Linked DNA regions of Homo sapiens. The protein of the gene in region 2 purifies or fractionates together with the protein of the main gene of each other region. This does not show direct contact. Each region holds a gene or a part of one and is shown on either strand. Other genes may lie near its edges.

Region 1 (7,029 bases), on a different chromosome or scaffold from region 2:
AAATAAACAAAAAACCCTTATAGTATTCCATAATTCAAACTTGTAAGCCTTAAGTACAAAGATATCTGAATTATACATAAGTCAAAGTTCATTAAGGTGTTCCCCTTACCCCAATTAGTCTAAATTAGTACACTTGCAAAGAAATCTGAATTAAATGTCAGTCAATAAAATTCACAAAGCCAGAAGCAGTTTAGTGCTCACAAGTTTATATTTTTAGGTTTGAATAAAGATTCTTGTGTATTTTCTAAATACACAGACAAAACAGTTCCGGAAGTTTACATACATGTCTTAGGACACTTATATTAGGTAGGTAATTTACATTTTAAAAAGTTGGTCTTCGTAAAAGATCTTCCCAAAGAGCTTTTACAAACAGCAGGCGGAAGTGTTCTTTTGTTTACAGTGTTCAAAATGCCAATGCTCCCACTAAATAATGGCCTCAACCATCTCTCCTCAACCCAAAATATTGTTCTCAATAGCTAGTGTACTCCAAATTTAAGTACCCAATGTCATAAAATTTAGGGCTAGAAAACATCTTTTGAAGTGTGCTTATCCCTAACACATTTTAAACTATCTAGAATTCTTTAACTTCAGTTGAAAGCAGAGATACAGCAGGAAAAAAAAAAAAACTTTCCATTTTAAGTCCTAAAGTGACTAAACACCTGTTAGTTCTAAGTGTGGATATTATGTACCATAGTTAAGTTTAAGGATCTGGGTGACTGAACGGCACAAAAACTGGGGTTTCTATCTAGTTCTTCAGATAAAAACCATTCTTTTATAAAATTAAAATGCCACAGCCAGTTAAGAGCATGTGCTACACTGATGTGTCTTAATATAGTCAAAGTGACAAAACAACTGCTTTATGAAGAAAGAGTAGTAAGGAAATTTATTGGGGGGAGGAAAGACACTCAAAATTCTAAACACAGCTGTCTTATAGGAAAAATATAATCCATAGACTCCATTAAGAGCTGAAATTCTACAAGAGTTGTTTAATGAGGCAGCAATAGAGCCTCCCTGAAAGAGTATGGGCTTCAGAATCAGACGTGGTCAAATTCGAGCTCTGTCACAGCTGTGTTAAATTAGCCAAGTTTCTGAATTTCTCTGAGCCTTTCCTCATCTATAAAATGGAGACAATTAGCACCTACCTTATAGAGGATTAAGGTAAAATCATGTATACAGCACAACGGCAAGTGTGGGCACTCAAAAAAAAAATTGGTAGTTTTTTTAATCGTTTTTCAGAAAAATGAATCTAAACCCTTCATGCTATGTTCAGAAAATCCTAAAAAATATAAATAAAGCTTACTAAAGTTTTAAAAATTAAGATTTTTAAACCTATTTTCCATCACACTTTCCCCCGTATGATACTACTACAGTGATATTCAGGCCGTTTACACCATTTTGTATTAATATAAATGCCCAAGTCCTAATCCTTTCATTTCCTATTTTCTCCTTCCTTTCCCCCATCTTTTCTTATTTCTTTTTCCTCTTGGTTCTTATCTATTATTAAACAACTTTAAGATGTGTTATGCACCTATTATGTACCAGTGTTCTAAGCACTTTACATGAATTAACGCATTTAGCTCACTCTTCTCCATTAGGATAGCTGTACCTAACCCAGCTAGTGTGTTTTCCCCAATTTCAAAGCTACTCATTACTGTTCAGTTTCCCTTTCCTATAACGTTTCTTCTTTTTTAAACTCTTAATTGCTAGTGTGCTAAATTTAGCAAAATATCTAGTAAATAAGAAAAATGAACAGGGGTCCATATGGAAGTATCTGTCTCTGAGAACTCTAATAATGCACAATCTTGATTTATGAGACGGTCTGTAACTACAGAGTGAATATGAAAGAAAGTTTATACTCTTCCCCTTCATTAAAAGCTCTAAAATACTTTTTCATTTAAAATATAAATTACAAGAGACAACTTCGCCAAATGTGTAACATAATTCTGCCAGAGTTCCACAGACAAAATTATGAGTATTTCATTGTTACCTCTGAGACCAATCATAAGTTCTTAGTATCTATCAACTTCCTGAAATTTTACTGTAAGTCAGAAAAAGAATACACTTAAAAAAATAGAAATGTCCAGTAGTATACCTTAGTACTAAAACTATTTTTTTAAAAGATCTAGATGGGAAAAGGCAGTCCCTCGAGATCATGAAACAAAATAAGTTAGGCAGTCAGCAAGTAGAAAAATCTGTCAATTCTGTTTCCGGTAAAATGTTTACTTCAAAGAAATTTTTATATAGGCTGAGGCTAATATATTCAAGAGTATAAACACTTTTCCTTTGGATTACCTAAAAACAAACTTTTAAAGTATCATATTTCAATTGACTAAAAATATAGCCAAATCTGTCACAACACAACATAAAGTAATGGACAATTATAGAATATTTTAAATTAACAGTAACAAGCCATCTACATCAAACCTTATTTCCAACTAAAACCAAACAAAAGCACAACAATCCCGTAGTGTACCAAGTGTGTATTTCAATTTACTGTATGCAATCTAACAAAAATTTGGTCATAATTTACCAGATATACATAAATGATTTAAGTAGTAAAAGAAAATTCAGCTTCAAGAGAGTAAGTTCATATCTTGAGGAAAAGTAAAAGTACATTAAGAATGTAAAGCCAAGTCCAGTTTCTATGCAATAAGTGAACTGTAGTCTAATAAAGCAGATTTAGGTGATTTTTAGATATATATCTTTGTTCTTTAATATATATTTATATATAGACAGATCTACCAATTGTAAACTAGTTTATTTAAAGGAAGGGGATAAATGGGATGAAAGAAATCTTTATACTATACTTACATATTCACAAAGAACATTTTACGTTTAAAATACTTTTTCATTCATAGTATCTTTGCCCAACTAATTTCTACCAGAAATACATTTTACTCATTTGTCTAGAACATTAAGAAGTACTCATCTGTTTTAAACAAAAATCAAACCGAAACTATTCTTATCTGTCAGGTTTACAGTTATGTAGAAACTACAATATAGATGACAAAAGATGCATCTAACCATGTAACTGTAATTTATCTTTGATTTATCCAAGCAGAAACATCATTGTCTAACAATAAACCATTATTCTACTGAAATCAGAGACAATGATAAAGCTTGTCTCTTAAAAAACATCAACTTTTCAACTTTGATCAGATGGAGCACCAAAGGGATTATATCTGTCAAAGCATCTTTGCAATTTTTTCCACATAACTAGCATAATTTAGTTACCTGATATAAAATAGGAAAATATACTCAATTTTTATTTAAAAGAAAGCTGAAAATATGACATCCCTCAATCTTATATAATATACAATATGCTAATAAATGCCATACATGTTAACAATACGTGAAATGCTGCTGAGAGTTCCACAATCAGCTAATTCATGTCACCAGGCTAAGTAAATCTGACAATTTCACCTCAATATGTCACCCTTTGTACCCTGAAGAATTTATAGAATAATAAAGCTTCTCAGAATTTTATTTGTAAGATTTTTGAGACTGTTGAATCATGGTGACTACTAGAAAGACTGTATCAAGGTGTAGTGACTTCAAGGACAGAAAAAAATAAATTAAGTATTGATCATAATTTCAAAACAATCAATATCCCGCTAAGTATGAAACAAAAGAGAATGCACATTTTGTGTTAATTTTCATGATAAAAGGGACACGGGTAAAAACCTGATATTTCACTTATATTGCATAACAAGCTAACCAAACTGGACATGGTGGATAAATTATAAAACAAATCATTTTACTTATTTCTATGATTTTTCTTTCAATTAGGTCTTTCAAATAGGACTGAGGTATAGTACACTGGCAAAAATAAAGAGGCAAACAAGAATAGTGCCAAAGTAACAGATACCCAAAACCAAATACCATGTCAGAAAATATCATATAGTAACCATTTATCAGATTAGAGCAGCAGAAGAAAGTTACTTCTAAATCATAATCATTTTAGTGGTATTTGTCAACTTCGCCACGGTAACTTCATAACATCATTCTTCATTTGTGAAGTAGTAAAATTCATGTCAAAAAGGAAGAGGGGAATGGAGGAAGTCAGTTAGTTCATTCCAATAAATTACCTCTCCAGTTCTTATAAACATGCCCATCAGCACAAAATCGAGAAATAATACCTAAGACTAGAAGAGACTTGGTTTAAGTTATGAAGCAAATTAAATGGAAAAATACAAGAAAATAGAACCAATGGGGTTGAAAAAGCCCCTCACTGAAAATCTGTATTAAAAAAAATAAAATTAATAAAAATAAAAATAGAAACAAAACTCTACTAGTACAAACTAGCCTGAGTGGTTTGATGGACAGAGTGATTGGGTCAATTGTCACTGTACTTCCATAAACGGATTTTCTCCATTCATGTTAAAGTAGCACATGAATGTAAGCTCTTTAAGGACTATTTTCATAGGACCCAAATAGTTACTGTATATCCTATAAATAAAAAATATTTTACTTTGATAACTGACTGAGTATGTGGGGACTCCATGTAATCCAACCACATGGTTGTTTGCTGTATAGTCCTGTGCAAATATAAAAAAAAATTTTTTTTGCTATAAGGCTTTGACCCTACAGTTTTCACAGCAACATAACTACTATCCAGCATGTACCATATTTTGCAAGCCTTCAAGTTCAACAATCCAAATTGTCGATTCATATTAGGTCCAAATGCAGCATCCTTGAGGAGTATAGTAGGTCAGTTAATCATCTAGAGACATACAAACTTCTCCTGATTCATCCCATCGAGAGGGATCATTCTGATCTTCTCCATCATCAACTAGCTCTTCATCAGCTTCTCCTACTTCATTCTCCTCGTATTCTTCATCCCGAGGGAATTCTGTATCCTGTCCCTGATCTACACCTTCTTGCCCTCCTGGCTGTGATTTATCTGCACAGTCTACACAAACACCATAACGTCGAGATCCATGTCTTATTCCAACACTGGCTGCTAACATGAAGATCTTCTTACACACCATACATTTGTATTTTTTATCCTTTTTATGCACCTAATTGGAGGGGGAAAAAATCCAATATAAGGATATTATATATAATAGAATGCATTTGAACCACTCAAATTAAACCACACATTTAATAGTGAGTGAATACACCAGTTTCTCTGTAAAAAGCTCACTATCAGTTCATAAAGTCAAACTGTTTAAAGCAATTTAGGAGACAATCTTCCTTAAATTCACAATTAACTGTTTAAATCCCTTTAAACTTCACTGACATAAATATAGTTTATCTCAAAGATCAGCTGTATTTAAAGTTACTTACCAGGGAATGTCTTTTTACATGTTCTCTTCGAGTAAACAGTTTTCCACAAATATCACAGCTAAATGATCTCACTCCTGTGTGAATGAGCAAGTGCCTTTTTAGTGTTCGTCTGTATTTGGCTACATAGCTACAATGAGGGCATTTTAACTTGTTCATGATTAGAGATGATTCACCTATGAGAATTAAAAAAAGAGAAAGTGCTTATTACACATTAAACAGAAAACTTGCTATCAAAACTTCTTATCTCTATCTCTGAGAACAGCAATTATGTGGAGCTACTGCTACTTGGTTTTTAAAAAATGCAGAACATGAAAGCTTTTAATTGTTAACAATTATTTAATTAATTCTGTATTTGTTTAGTTGACTAATACTTGCCATTTTCCCAGGTTTCTTGTTTTGGCCAAGATTCTGGCAATAATCCATACTTGAAATCATTTGAAGCACCTGGTATCAATCCATACTTGAAATCATTTGAAGTACCTGGTATCAATCCATACTTGAAATCATTTGAAGGACCAGGCATCAAACCATACTTGAAATCATGTGAAGTACCTAGTACAAGTAAAAATTCTGAATTAATAATGGTAATAAAGATCTGTCTCTCATCAGAGTCAGAAAACAGAAATTATATTTATATCCTACAGGCATTATGATAGAATTTCATAGTATGAGTTAAATAAAACTGTATTTTAGTCTAAAATTGAGATGTCTTCCTACTTTATTATCACAATTAAACAAAATACCATTCAACTATAGTAGAAGAAATTCAGTTAAAAAAATTAATCATGGGCCAGGCACAGTGGCTCATGCATATAATCCCAGCACTTTGCGAGGCTGAGGCAGAAGGATCACTTGAGCCCAGGAGTTTGCAACCAGCCTGGGCAACATGGAGAAACTCCATCTCCATCTCTACAAAAAAATTTTAAAAATTAGCTGGGCATGGTGGTGTGTGCCTGCAGTCCCAGCTACTGGGGAAGATCATTTGAGCCCGGGAGTTGCAGTGATTCAAGATTGCGCCACTGCACTCCAGCCAGGGCGACACAGTGGGATCATGTCTCAAAAAAAAAAAAAAAAAAAAAAAAAGGTGGCGGGCGGGAGAAAAAAACATGAATATCATTTAATTGTGCAGACGCCACAAGAAATTACCCTTTTAAAGGATGGGTATATTCAAACCAGAACTCCTAATAGTTGCTTTTTCTAACTACTCTATCACTTAAGATTTTATCACCCTAAAGCCCAGCTATCAAATGGGATATTCTCCTTATTACGAATCCAGGACAGGCACATAATTTTAAGATTAATTGGTACAGAAAAATAGACTAAGAATAAAGAATATATATAGGATAATTAAAAATGTAAAGTTCTATTACTAGATCCTTGTTTCAGACATATTAGGGCAAGGTAACTGAATGCTCTCAGGGTTCCCTGAAATTTCTTTCTAACTCCATCCTTAAATAAAATAACGTGCAGAAGATAGAATCAAAATAGAATAATACATGTGCCTAAGGATCTTCAGATTAGCAAGGACAGGAATTATATCCACTGGATTTAATTCCATCTTTAATGTAATTCCTTGGACCAGGAACCTTTTGGCAATAGGAATATATATCCAGAATCTTCCACAACTATTGCCACCCTGATCCAATCAATCATGAGCTCTAGCCCCTGGACTGTCTTCAGTAGCCACCAAAAACTTGTCTCCCTACTTCCACTGTTGCCTTCCTAGAGTCTGTTCTCAGC
Region 2 (5,957 bases):
CTTGACCCTGGGCTCTTTTTCTCCTCTCCTGCAGGTACGACACCATCACCAACCAATGGGAGGCGGTGGCCCCTCTGCCCAAGGCAGTACACTCTGCTGCAGCCACAGTGTGTGGCGGCAAGATCTACGTGTTTGGTGGGGTGAACGAGGCAGGCCGAGCTGCCGGCGTCCTCCAGTCTTACGTTCCTCAGACCAACACGTGGAGCTTCATCGAGTCCCCAATGATTGGTGAGAACCAGCGGTGTCCTCAGCCCAGGGCCAGGGTCGCATCCCTGCCTTGCTGATTTGTTCAGTATCCCATGCCCAGAAGTCAGGCTAAGCCCAACAGCTCTGCAGACCCAGATCTAGAGGGTGGCAGGAGTTGCCGAGCCCCCAGCTCAGGTGTCTGGAGAGGGGCAAGTGAGTCAAGGCTCCAGGTTCCCCTAGGCCCCGGACCCATCCCCAGGCCAATCAGTCACTTGTTGGAAGTCTTTCGAGCTTCCTTCCCTGGAGGGTCTTCTGGGAAAGAAAAGGAGAGGGAAGTCCAAGACAAGCTGCCGTGACCTGCCTGCTCTGCTCTCCTCACAGACAACAAGTATGCCCCCGCTGTCACGCTCAATGGCTTCGTTTTCATCCTGGGCGGGGCTTATGCCAGAGCTACCACCATCTACGACCCTGAGAAAGGAAACATTAAGGCGGGCCCAAACATGAACCACTCTCGCCAGTTCTGCAGGTGAGAGGCTGCGGCGCCTTGACTAGGGCTGGGACGGAGGAGTGGGAGGAGGAGGGGTGTGACCACAATGATTTCCTGCCATCAGTGACCATAGCAATTCCCAGGCCCAGAGCAGTGGCCCTCCCCCTCCAACCACAGGAGTGGGCATTAGCCCAGACCAGTAGGGTGGAGCCCACGGCAGCCTCTGGTCCAGGAGCCCAACCCCGGGGCTCCAGCTGGCCCCAGCTCCAGCAGAAATGAACCATTTCCTGAAGGCATCAAGGCTACCCTGCTCTCAGTGAGAGGTGAGGTCAGCTTCCCCCAGGACCACCTGCCCCATCACAGACAGAAGGCAGTGCCAGGCCAGAGCTGTGTGATGCCCTACAGGGACAAGTGACTTCTTGGGGGAATGCTCTGAGGACATGAACGATCCTGATGGCTTTGGGAGCTGTGCTCAGAGTCCCAAAGGCTGACTGGGCAAAAGCACACACAAACCCACCCCTGCAGGCAGAGAAGGTAGAGGGCTGAGTGTGGCTCGGTCCCCAGGCTTTCTGGCCCTGTGGCAGCGAGACACCAGTCCCTGCTCTTCCAGCCCCATCCTTTCCTGGACTAAGAGGAACAAGGAATAAAAAGGGGCCCCAAGGCCAGGTGCAGTGGCTCACACCTGTAATCCCAGCACTTTGGGAGGCCGAGGCGGATGGATCAGTTGAGATCAGGAGTTCAAGACCAGCTTGGCCAACATGGTAAAACCCCGACTCTACTAAAAATACAAAAATTTGCCAGGCGTGGTGGCATGTGCCTGTAATCCCAGCTTCTCAGGAAGCTGAGGCAGGAGAATCGCTTGAACCCGGGAGGCGGAGGTTGCAGTGAGCCGAGATCGCGCCACGGCACTCCAGCCTGGGTGACAGGAAAAGACTCCGTCTCACAAAAAAGAAGGGGCCTCAGAAACCTCATTGTCAGGACTCCCATAGCAGATGCTTCCTGAAGACATCTTGTGCCTATGTAGAGGTAACTGCAGAATCTTCAGTGTGGGAATAGCATGAAGTACTTAGAGTGCCCATTGTTTGTGTAGCATAGCTAGAAAAGATATAACCTCCTACTAGCATGTCAGTGACCTTGGACATATCCCTTCACCTCTCTGAGGAAGTTCTATCTGTGAAACAGGCGGTTGGACCAGACAACTGCTAAGCTCCTGTTGGACTGAGATTTCACAATTCTTGAGCCATACTTCCATGTCATGTACCCTAATGGTGGCAGTGTGCAGAGCACAGTCTGACTACCCCGTCCACTGATGCAGACAACTGGAGCATTGCGCTCCACTTGGGAGGATGCTCGCACCTTCTCTGAGACTAGAAGTAAATGGGAAAGGGCCAGGCACAGTGGCTCACGCCTGTAATCCCAGCACTTTGGGAGGCTGAGGTGAATGGATCACGAGGTCAGGAGTTCAAGACCAGCCTGACCAACATGGTGAAACCCCGTCTCTACTAAAAATACAAAAATTAGCCAGGTGTGGTGGCAGGCGCCTGTAATCCCAGCTAACTCAGGAGGCTGAGGCAGGAGAATTGCTTGAACCTGGGAGGCGGAGGTTGCAGTGAGCTGAGATCACACCACTGCACTCCAGCCTGGTGACAGAGTATGACTCCGTCTCAAAAAAAAAAAAAGAATGGGAAAGACTTAACGGCAAATGGCAGAGTTAAGCTGGGTCTTGCAAGATAATCAGGTAATAGGTGCACCACAGAAGGAAAATATGAGGGCCCCAGATGGCATGAACTAAGGGAGAGAAGACTGGAAGCTTCAGGGTCTGGTAAGAAGTCCAGACTGATGTGTTCTCTTTAAGAGATTTCAGAAACGGGTGGAGCCTTTGAAAAGGTATGTGTCCAATGTCAGGGAATAGCCAGGAAGAAATGGCCATTAGCTGAAATGAAAGAGTGTCAGGGCTAGAAACAAGGATGTGGACGTCAGTGCAAAGAAGTAGCTGAAATGCATTAAGGGAGTCAGTGCAGAGAGGGGCCAGATGCTGAGCCCTCATGATGAGAGGAGCTGACTGAGACAACAGGAGCAAGCCAGTGAGTGTCACACAGGGAAGGGGTCCAGGCACAGCCATCGGTCACCCTGCAGAGCATGCCCGGCCCTTGCAATCCTGGGTGGGCAGCAGCACCAGGTCACACAGAAGCACCTTGGCAGGTGGAGCTCCCAGTCAAGTGGCTGACATTCAATTCCAGCTGAGCTCCTTATTATTCTCTCTCGTCATTCTTGTGAGTCATGTTCCCAATTTGATTTGAGCAGTAGGAAGGCTGCGTGTGCCACACAAGAGCCTCCAGAAAGCCTCAGTGACCTGAGCTGAGTGCCCGCACAGAGATCTTTCGTCTCCTAGCCATGGTTAGTCACTCTGGCGGGGCAGGGAGGGAGCGCCTTCTGCCGCTCGCAGGGTGGCATAGCACGGCTTCCTGACTGGCCCTGGAGGACAGGTGTTTTTCTTATGCCAGCCCAGGTTAGAGGGCAAAGAAGGGCAGCAAGATCCCAGATGCCTTCTGCAAAAGGCACAGGCAGCCTACAACAGGACACGACGTTGAGAACCTATCTCCAGGGCCAAGTTGGAAGTGAAATGCCTAACTCTGTCCCCGCTTTCCCCCAACAGTGCTGTGGTGCTTGATGGCAAGATTTATGCAACTGGAGGTATTGTCAGCAGTGAAGGGCCCGCGCTGGGCAACATGGAGGCCTACGAGCCCACAACCAACACATGGACCCTCCTCCCCCACATGCCCTGCCCTGTGTTCAGACACGGCTGCGTCGTGATAAAGAAATATATTCAAAGCGGCTGACATCAGCAGAAAGCCCACGATAAGACTGTGGACAAGTCTGGTGAGGCAAGTGCCACGCAATGATAATTTTCCAGCGACACCAACAAGAGGCCAACAAAACACAATCAAGGAACTCACTGCGCTCAACATGTTGAATATTCTCTACATTGAATGTAGAAAATCATCCTCGCCTTTGGATGAAACGGAGGCACCGCGCTTGGAGCCGCAGGAACCACGATCCCGCCATGGGGCTGGCTGCCTCCTGAACAGGGGCGCTCGCTCTGCCAGGTGCAATAGAGTTTCACGTATTTTTCAACTGGGAGAGAGAAGCTGTTTTTTCCTTCCTGCAGAGCAAGCTTGATCCCTAAACAACCATAGATCAGTTATCTTATGACAACATTAGGCATCAGGCTCTCTTGGAATAAGATCAAAGTGTCCTTATCACTTTGATTCCTACTTTTGTTTTTTAACCGATCTACACTTTCAGTGGCCGACAGAAAACGAGGGACAATACTGTGCATCACAAGGCCTAGGAGGCTGCTGGTCCCCACTGGGGCTGAAGAGAAGCCCAGCTGCCCACGCGGAGCCAGGGGTGGCAGCTGTGGGACAGCCGGGGAGCAGGGACAGCGGTCTGTCCTTCACAGGTTTTTCTACTGTGTTTTTGCTGGAGAAGGACAGTGATTGCGCTAGCTTTCTCTTACCCGGTATGAATTATTTAGATTTCTGAGGCATTTTCTTGATAAACAAAAGGCTATTTTTAAGTACTGAGAGGAGGAGCAGGCCACAAGAGGGATAATGTTGTGGGAATTCCCAAAGCTCTTTGTAGGTAGTGCCAGAGGGGGGCTTTTGCTCTCATTTTTCTATGTGCAGAATAGAGGATCTCTCCTGGGGTGGGCGATGCCCCCATTTTATTTTTAGAAAAAGTAACTCCCAGACAGCCCCATAAAAGCTGTGCCCAAGGAAGAAGAGTCTGCTCTAGAAGGAGCCCGGTTCTGGCTCAGGACACCGGCCCAGCTCCCTCCATGAGGTCAAGCTGAGGACCAGGCCAGTGGGAAGGGAAGGAGGGAGAATTAGCGTCTATAAAGCACAGGAGACTATTTTTGATATTCATAGCTATATATTAAGGCACCTGCCACAAGAGCTCTCAGGATGGGGACAGCCTTCTTAGTGGAGCCATGGCAGCAAGGCCTGAGGGCATGAACAGAACCACTCTTCTTGTCACATACGAACCTGAGAAAAGGGAAGCCAGGAGGGAGGTCACACCATGGCTCAAAAGGGAAAGGCCTTCCCACTTGTCCTTAGCCCCTCAAACCTCACACGGTCAACAGTTTCCATTCCAGGGCAGGAGAATGCTGCCGCCACTGCGCTGTTGAGTTGAAGTTGGTACCAAATACACATTTACCACTTTTATATCTGGGAAGTCAACTTGCCATCGTTTCATGATAACAACCATTTATAAGAGAAAAAGACAGGACACGCTTTCCATCGTTCAGTATTTGATGACACAAAATTCCAGTTCTAACGTTGGGCATCAACTTCTAGCACTACGAGTGTGGCTCCCACTTGGACAAGATACCGAGCTTCGTTATGCAGTTTTTAATATTATTTATTATTTTAAAAAGTAATAAGCACAAAACTACATACATTGTATGTCATTTAAAGTATTTATGTCAAACAGGGTGCAAGTGTGAACCCAAGGACTGGAGCACAAATTCCTAACTGCCTGGGGCAGGGCTAATGTTAGCATTGGTGTGCGTCTGCCTCCAAAGGAGGTTCTAGTTGTCAGCGAGACTCAACACAGATGACATTGAAATTCGTTTCTCTCCTCATCTATCACACTGGAGCAAAACTGGCTATTTCTGTGAATGATATAAAACAGGGTTCTCTGTAATGGTATTGTACATAGTATATGTTTACTGTTAAGTTCTTGTTATATTATAATAAATATATTTATAGATCTAGACTTGGAAGCCAACGTAATCTTTGTGTGCCATCGTCCTGCCACAGGGATGCAAAACCTGTTCTACCCCTCATACATCAGCTGTATGGGTTCTCTTATAGACTTTAGTGCAGAACTTAATGATTAGAAAGGATGGGACTCCATATTGAGGGAAGGTTTAGAGTTGAAAAGCCAAGAAGACAATTGAAGGTAAAAGTTGAAAGGGACTTGCAAACACGCTGGCACTGGCTCTGAGGCTCTTCCTTTCATTGAAGTGCTCTTCTTATTACACTTGTGCAACTGAAAGCTTCAAAGCTGTTAGCTTCCCACTGGTATCACTGCTGTGCCAGGGACCCACTTAGAGCCACATGGCAAGTCCAGCTCATGAGCCTAAGAGGAGACACAACACACTTTCTCCAGGAAGAGGAATACAGGGTGATTTCTTTTCTTTTCTTTTCTTTTTTTCTTTTTTATTGAGATGGAGTTTCACTCTTGTTGCCCAGACTGGAGTGCAATGGCGCGATCT

What was found. The genes of interacting proteins can lie anywhere in the genome.
Region 1: the proteins of KLHL29 (region 2) and ZBTB10 purify together in Homo sapiens (affinity purification with mass spectrometry; 2 studies listed by BioGRID and IntAct, with this or other methods). This does not show direct contact.

The regions. Positions count from the first base shown.
Region 1 is NC_000008.11:80,517,215-80,524,243, reverse strand, and holds part of ZBTB10 (zinc finger and BTB domain-containing protein 10), read right to left. Parts: intron 5,842-7,029; coding exon 5,665-5,841; intron 5,463-5,664; coding exon 5,290-5,462; intron 5,022-5,289; coding exon 4,716-5,021; 3' UTR 1-4,715. UniProt on the Homo sapiens protein: May be involved in transcriptional regulation.
Region 2 is NC_000002.12:23,703,152-23,709,108, forward strand, and holds the end of KLHL29 (kelch-like protein 29), read left to right. Parts: intron 1-34; coding exon 35-228; intron 229-567; coding exon 568-712; intron 713-3,329; coding exon 3,330-3,513; 3' UTR 3,514-5,455; downstream 5,456-5,957.